2 separate regions of the Homo sapiens genome follow, and region 1 is reported to be linked to region 2. The links are microRNA targets in miRTarBase. Many come from high-throughput screens and were not tested one by one. Region 2 holds a microRNA gene; the other region holds the end of a gene's coding sequence.

Region 1 (4,110 bases), not on the chromosome of region 2:
TAAATACTATAAACAACTTCTGTGAGGCCAACATTCAACTTGAGATAAAATCATCCAATACAGTTGAAGCCCTGTGTCCTATATACTTGATACATTCAGGATTCTGACTTTGATGCTTATAATTCTCATGCATTCATTTGTAGCTATATGAAAATTTTTAAACCCAACATAACAAACTACTTGCTACATCACTGGATCTTTTTTACCTGGAACTGAAATTAGGCAGTAAAATAAAAATGTGATACATCTCATTCTTTTCTTTTTGACACAACAAAGGAGAGTTTATCTCTGCTATTCTACTTACCTTCCCCTTCCCTGCGCTGCACTACTCCAAACCTCCTTTTAGGGTATTTTACCTAGATAGGTCTTTTCAGTACTGAACTTGTTCACATTGCTCACATCGACATGTACTATCCATGTTATTGTTTTAGGAATTACTCTTTTCTGTCTATCCTGTTAGAAAGACTATTAAATTGCACTGGTTGACACTGGGTTACTCCATTTGTGTTCTTCATGACTAGCATGAGGCTATTTTTGGGTGATACTTACTGATGACATATATGATATAGAAGACACAGGAGAAATATACTGCATGAAAATCAAGATTCAGCTTTAGCTAGACAAGATGAATCAATAAACTAAAATCTAACAAGATGGAGTTCTATAGGAAAAATGTCTTAAGAGTTTGGTTTAATAAATCAATTTCATATGTGAAGGGTAAGCCATAATTTAACAGCACTACATATTGAAGATTTAAGGTTTTAGTGACATAAAGTGAATCAGTGATATGTGGTTGTCAAAATAAAAAACTAAAGTGGTATTAGGCAGCATTAAAAAAAAGCATCCAGAACAGGGGAAGTGGTACTCTTTCACAGCATATCTGATCACCTCTTGTATTTAACTCTTGTGCTATATAATAAGTAATAAACTGGAACTTAGAGCAGAATTACCAGGATAGTGGGAGAAATCTGAAACCATATCATATGGAAAATGGTGAAGGCTCTAGTAATATTTATTCCATGCTGTTGACACCAATTTAAAAGTTATCTTTAAATACTTGAAGAGTTATGTAAAGATTAGATTTTTGACTCGATATACAACAAATTGTAAATTCTATTACAAAAATAGAATATACTGTCTTATAAGTCCTCTTCTATTAATATTATTATTAAAACAGAACTAAATGGAAGGGTGGTAATTAATAAAGATTCAAGCTAAGGTAGGGGGCCCGGCATGTTGGCTCATGCCTGTAATCCCAGCCTGACCAACATGAGGTTGAAGCGGGCAGATCACTTGAGGTCAGGAGTTTGAGACCAGCCTGACCAACATGGTGAAATCCCATCTCTACTAAAAATACAAAATTAGCTGGGCATGGTGGTGCACGCCCATAATCCCAGCTACTCAGGAGGCTGAGGCAGGAGAATTGCTTGAACACAGGAGGCAGAAGTTGCAGTGAGCCGGGATCACGCCACTGCACTCCAGCCTGGGCGACAAAAAAAACCCGGCTCCAGCCATCTCAAAAAAAAAAAGTTAAGGCAGGGGGTTGAATTACATGGTGTCTAAGGGCTTCTCTAACTTAGCCTCATATAGCTCTATAAGCTAATTCATATAGGTATTAGTGAAGGAGATATTATTATGCCTCTTAGGATCTTTATAATTCAATAGACAATAACACCATAAACCTAGAAAAAGGATGGGGGCAGGTCAAAGGGACACAGCAGTCAGCTTGTAAGAGCTCCTAATGGTCAAAGCTGGAGGACAATTTGAGCAACAAATCATAATAATGGATTATAACCCAAAGAATGAAATATCCATAAGCCCAGAGTATAAGTGATTTAATAAGTAAATAAAGAAGGGACAAATCTTCCTTATAAAAAGATTCTAATAAATAATTATAGAATAAGGGAAACAGAAAATCATCACTAGAACTCCACAATAGTAATTGCTGCAAGAAAGATCCACCAATGAATGCTAAAATTTGTGGCATTTCTAAGCTCATGACTCCTTAGAAATTGCCATTATGTCTCCTGACTTGAAGTCAGGAGCATTTATGGCATGGCAATTTATTTTGTTCCAAGTAATAGTCATTTTTAGATTTTGTTTTAAACTGGAATGTAGGCACCAAAGGGAAGGGAGTTGGTTTTTCTTGTCTACAAACTATCCTCAATACCTAACATAATTCCTGTTACAGAGTGGGCCCTTCAAATATCTACTGAGTAAATATTTTTAAAACATTGACGGGAGAAAGCAGTGAAGAAAGCATGTCTAAGAGGGAGACTTCTATCTCTGAAGTATGTTAAAAAAATGTAAGCCTTTTGAGAGGAACTTTAAAATAAAGAAAAATGAATGCTTTTTGTTACTTTAATTTTACGAATTCAGTTGCTTAAAAATAAACTTGAAAAATGTCATTTTAATTTTGATGACTAAATTTGGAGGGCTTTTGAAATAATATTACACCAACGAAAAATTTTATTAAATTATAGATCACCAGTTATTTAAAAATACACGGGAAAAGACAGACATACAAAGGTAGTATCATACAACTGATTTCTAAACTCAATACTTTTGAGATACAAAACAATGATCATTACCCCCAAAAGTCAGTTTACTGACACGAATTGATGTTTAAGTTGGTCTGTAACTCTTTTCATTCAATTCTGTTTATAAATGTTACTGAATTTTTAAATTTTGTCCCATATCTGAACTTTGTTTTTTTTGACATGTTTACTTCTCAAAGTAGTATATAGTTATTTCTTGCAATTAATGTCAGCAACTATAAGAAGCTTTCCTAAGTCACAAGAATTCAATGTGGTTGCTGTTCTGGAGACAGTTACCATTTTGGGCTATATATACTAAAACCCACGTATTCAAAGGCAAAATATGGGGGTTGAGAGCAGGAGGACTAAGAAAAGAAAATGTTATCTTTTACTGCAGACCTGCCAAAAAAAAGACTCCATTACTTACTTTGGTACTATTGCTAGAGACGTTGTTTCTGCCAGACCACAGGTTGGCTATATGGTTGTTCCTTTTATATTTCCTTTTTCAAATGATGACAAACTTTCCCAATTAAATTGTTCAACCAAATAAGCAGACACCTTTAAATTACCATATATTTTTTAGTTGCTTGAAAGAAATTAATTATTTTCTTAATTGGTTTAGCAGCCTTGTGTCTGGAAAAGCAGTAAAACCTGCTTTGTTCCAAAATTAGAACACTTGACTCAGAAGCTGCTTGTAAGACACTTGGCTATCTTTTATCACCAATCAGTCACAAAGGTGAACCTCCATGAACTCTGTAACGTAATAAATGTAAAAATGGCCTCATTGACCAATACACAATATTAAGCCAGCAAAACCAAAAAAGTACCCTCATAAGTGGGAACTGGCTTGTATAAAACAAGAGGATATACATCCGCTTACATAAAACGAGAAATATGTACGGTAATAAAAATAATCTTTAATAAACTTGTATAGAGAGGATTCCGGTTTACATGTAAGTCTGCTTTAAATAACCACAGCTGAATGACTGGAAATGTTCTTTTCTTAACACAATGCCCATTCATTATAAGTTAAGCTGGTCCTAGTTTCTTACAAATCTCTTATTTCCTTGAATTTATCTACTACACCCTCACTGTGATGCCCTTTAACTTATAAGCTGGGCCTGCCCAGCCTGCTTATAAAGCCCCTCTTCAGAAATGTACCAGGTGTATTAAACAGAGGCATCATTTAATGGAAATCTGCACTTCAAAACAGCACTTGAAGGACCAGCCATTGGCCCTCCAATGTAAATACTTCTCATTTCACATTATCACAGAAACAGTGCAGTTTACTAACCACTCCTTCCTTATAAGAAATTCAGTAGCTGTAAAATTTTTTTTCAGTTTCAAAACATTTCAATACTTATTAATTCCAAAGATCCGAACACCATGTAGTTGTGGCATTTTGGGAATTAGTACACTCAGGAGAGAAGCTGTGTTTAGGATGAAGTGAGTTGGATCATACTTCGTATAGAAACTTGCCAGAAAATATCTGTAGAGATAAAAGTTAAGAATATATATAACATCCAAAAATAAAATTACTTGGAACTTAAACAATTTTAAAGGTAGAAAAAAA
Region 2 (4,245 bases):
CAGAGATCAAGAATGACTTTATCAAATGTCTTATTGAAATCAAGACAAGCTGAGCACATTATATACTCCTACCTCTGCCAGTCTCATAACCTAACCAGGAAAAGAAGTGTATGATACCATAGAAGGATTAAGTAGTTCACTGTTTGTACCACTTTGTTAAATAACCTTCTTTATGCAAAGGTACAAAAGTTCCACACACACAGACACATGCACAAACACACATGCACGTACACACAAGTACTTGTAACACATATTTGTTTGTTTTTAAGTTTCATGTAACATCCAAGTTAAGAAAGCACAGTTAGGTCTACTGGTCTAAAACAGAGATCTAGGAATTATCTCGTTTCTTTGACCAATACAGATTACTACCTTTGCTATTTCAATGAAAAAAAAGGAAAATTCAACTTTAGTAAAGAGTTTTAAGTATTATTAGAGAATTTCACTGGGCAAATTCTAAACAGAGGGTTATTTATAACAAACTCTAAGTATTCTAAACACATATTTTGGGCTGTTTCAGCTATCTAGAATTGTGTTGAATTTAAATACTAGAGATGTAGATGGAGAGAGGTGATATGGGTCTAGAAAGCAAATCATTTTCTGGCTGGATGCTCACACCTGTAATCCCAGCACTTTGGGAGGTTGAGGCAGGCGGATTGCCTGAGCTCAGGAGCTCGAGACCAGCCTGGGCAATATGGTGAAACCACACCTGTTCTAAAAATACAAAAAATTAGCTGGGCATACTGGTGTGCACTTGTAGTCCCAGCTACTTGGCAGGCCGAGGCAGGAGGATCCCTTGAGCCTGGGAGATGGCGCCACTGCACTCCAGCCTGGGTGACGGAGCGAGACTCCATCTCAAAAAAAAAAAAAAAAAAAAGTATTTTATGAACACCAACTTCTAATACATTTACTTGTATATCATGTGGCAGCAGACGTGAGAATGTGGAAAGCTATAAGGCCTGGGACACTCAGTGCAGGCAGCCTTGGCCTCATCCACAGGGCCTCCCACCACCCCATGTTGAGAGGTGACATAATCATGGTGGCAGCAACAGTGGTCACTGCACACAAGGCACTCTCCCAGCTGCTTACAGTCATCACCCAGTTAATCCTCACAACAACCCGCAGAGGTGAGTCCTCCTGCTATTCTTCTTCCACATAAGAAACGGAGCCTTGGGAGCCTTAAGAGCTTCCCAAGTCACAGAGTAGTAAGTGTGGCAGAAGCCCCCAAGCCCAGATGCACCTGCCACCAAGGCCTATGCTCTCAACCACTGGGTTTGTAAGGAAAGTATATAAAGATGATTGCCTGAAAATAATTAAAATAACAAAGTTTGGGGTTTAAGTTAAAGGAATAAGCCTTTGTTCTCATGGAAATCACTTCCAGGAAATGTCTCATGTCCTGAGCTAAGTCAGTCTCATGTCCTGAGCTAAGTCAACAGGGTGCTAACAGATTGTCATTGGAGGAGAAGCTTTGTCATTCTACTATTGAAAGCAAGCCCTTTACTCTGAAAAGCACAAGCATAAAAATTAAATCTTATTAATACACAACGACAGTTAAACTTGGCTATACTTGGTACAACTTAAGCACCAGATTTTACCTGGTGCTTAAGTTATACCAAATATGCCAGGCTTTTAGAAATGGGCATAACTCTTTTGGCCACGGCATCACTGAACTCCTCCATTTAAGTAGAATGTGTACAACTGTGCCCTGAAACTGGGCCATTATTACAAGATCTCCCGAGAGGAAGAGTCTTGCCTACAACTGGTGAGCCTCCTCATCTTCTTCCTCCTGACTTGGTGACCAGGCAAGCTGACAGACACTAGGGAGGATGGAGGCGACCACGTGTGGAGTGCAGAAGGCGCATACCGGAGGAAGGTGAGGGATGTTCCACAGATACATGGAACAAATCACATCATTCATGATTTTCAGTATCATCCAACTCTATATAGTTCTGCCAACCTCAACTCTGCACTGAGGAAACACTTTAAGTGAGGAGGATCTTAGCAATGAGTAGATTTTCATCAAAATTAAAGATTTCTGGGAAACAATAGCACCTTATAAGAAATGAAAAAAATAGTATCCTCAAGCACCCAAATCCCAAATACTGGGTCAGATGACAGATAGACACATTTTCTTGTCTGATGCTAACAAGAATGGAAATCGAGCCCCCTGTTTTACACAGCAGTGGCGTTTAAATAGACTACTTTTCTGCATTATGAAAACAGCCTTTTAAAGACTCTTTAAAGTTCAAGTTGAGTTTCAAGTAATCAGTTTGCAGCAACTCTAGGAGAATTATTATTCCTCCTGGTTGTAAGTGCTTTTTTTTCTTTTCTTTTTTTTTTTTTTTTAAGTAGTAAAATGGAAAACAGGCCTTAGAGAATTGTATTCCTCAAGGCCTCTGACTGCCTGCTTCCAAGCTTTTGTTAAAGAACAGAATGTGTTGAATTCTTCTCAATTGGCAGGGGATCAAGCACAATACTACATAATGAGGTAGCTGAGAACAGAGTTTTTCCTATAAACACAAAGAACAACTGAATAAGTGCATGTAATTCTCATCCAATTAAACAGGAAACATGATAAAGCAAGTTAGTACAGTTGTATTTAAACCAAGTTGACTGGTATAACTTGAAAAAATTTAACCCAAGTTTCTAAGGTATGCCTTATTCATAACTGATGAGTAAAAACAATAAAAATAAGGTACCCAAACCTATTACTTGTAATGAAATGCTAAAAATAAGATCCTAATAAATATAATTCACCAACCAGAAGACAGATGAACCTCCGTTTGGGATGTGAATGATTTGAAATGGCCGTTCATTTACGTGGATCCTATTCAGTGTCTACTCGTTCACTTCATCTTAAGGCCGTGTGTCCCCCGGACTCTGTGTGTTGCCATCCTTTTCCACCTGTTCCTTCTCTAATTCATATCACGACTGTACAATTTCTGGTTTTCTTTCAATGTGTGCACAGAAGGAAGCTCAACAACTTTGTTGAGCCAGGAAGAAATTATTATCAACATTTATAATCAGGCCAAATTTCAGCTGAGTAGTGACTTTAAAAGAATTAGTTTTAATCTCAAAATAAAAAAAAAAAAAGAGGGCAGGCGAGGTGGCTCACACCTGTAATCCAGCACTTTGGGAGGCTGAGGCGGGCGGATCACGAAGTTTAGGAGATCGAGACCATGCTGGCTAACATGGTGAAACCCCGTCTCTACTAAAAACACAAAAAATTCGCCGAGTGTGGTAATAAGCACCTGTAATCCCAGGTACTGGGGAGGCTGAGGCAGGATGATTGCTTGAACCCAGGAGGCGGAGATTGCAGTGAGCCGAGATCGCACCACTGCACTCCAGCCTAGGCGACAGAGCGAGACTCCGTCTCAAAAAAAAAAAAAAAAAAAAAAAAAAAAGAGAGGGCAACAGTCATTTCTGACTAAATAATTATATAATGTAGTTTTATTTATTTGATGTTTAATTTCATGAAAAGGGGAAGGGGTTTAAAAATCCAATCACTTAGAGAATTTCAATGACAGAACTGAAAAAGAACAAACTTTCTACGGAGCGTGGTGGCTCATGCCTGTAGTCCCAGCTGGGTCTCCACATCTGAGGCCAGGAGTTTAAGATCAGCCTGGGCAACAGAGCAAAACCCAGTTTCTAAAAGAAATTTAAAAAAATAAAATAAAATAAAAAAGAATAAACTTTCCTAAACTGTATACATTAGACCAAACCATCTGGAAGTATGATTTAATTCCTCAGATGTCACATAAATGGAACTATTACAATGAGACAATATTGAAATATGTTTAAAATGGAAATAATAATAGGGTTCCTTCTGAAAAACACAAAACTTTACCAAGTTTTACCAGCTAACTTGCAAAAAATATAGAAAATGCCTAGCAGTCAATACCACTGAGACTTAACTGCCAGCAGGCATGACAGACACTCAATCCAAGTCTGTGTTATCAAATATGGGCAAATGGGCCCCTTCTCATCCTTATACTATGAATTTCTGTAATTTCTCAAAACTACAGACAGAGTAAAGAGTATTTCAAGAATTATTAAAAGCTATCAAAATACTTTCCTCAACATTCTAAGACATAGTTTATTTTCCCTTACTAATTACATGGAATAAGAGAGGGAAGTATACATGAAGCTCTTTGAAATAAAAAAACAGTTTCTCTTTCAAAGAAACTTTCTTCTGTTCTTACGACCTTAGTAAATAAATTCTTAACCTTCCTATAGCTAACTAACAAA

The links. The annotated mature microRNA hsa-miR-4720-3p reads UGCUUAAGUUGUACCAAGUAU and lies in region 2 at 1,561-1,581, opposite strand. An mRNA with a match to its seed (bases 2 to 7 or 8) in the 3' UTR can be bound and repressed. Matches are read on the target gene's strand: a 7mer-m8 pairs with bases 2 to 8, a 7mer-A1 pairs with bases 2 to 7 and ends in A, and an 8mer does both.
Region 1: the mRNA of ORMDL1 is a reported target of hsa-miR-4720-3p. The part of its 3' UTR that is shown has no 7-base or 8-base seed match.

Annotation. Positions count from the first base shown.
Region 1 is chr2:189,767,877-189,771,986 of GRCh38, forward strand. It overlaps ORMDL1 (ORMDL sphingolipid biosynthesis regulator 1), which reads right to left. Exons shown (of 5, transcript NM_016467.5): 5 at 2,391-4,026. The coding sequence ends at 3,891. Among named protein-coding and RNA genes, the nearest start is that of OSGEPL1, 7.1 kb to the left of the region's middle.
Region 2 is chr16:81,382,399-81,386,643 of GRCh38, reverse strand. MIR4720 (microRNA 4720) reads right to left here and starts at 1,626; the gene lies at 1,551-1,626. It overlaps GAN (gigaxonin), which reads right to left. Exons shown (of 11, transcript NM_022041.4): 11 at 1-4,245.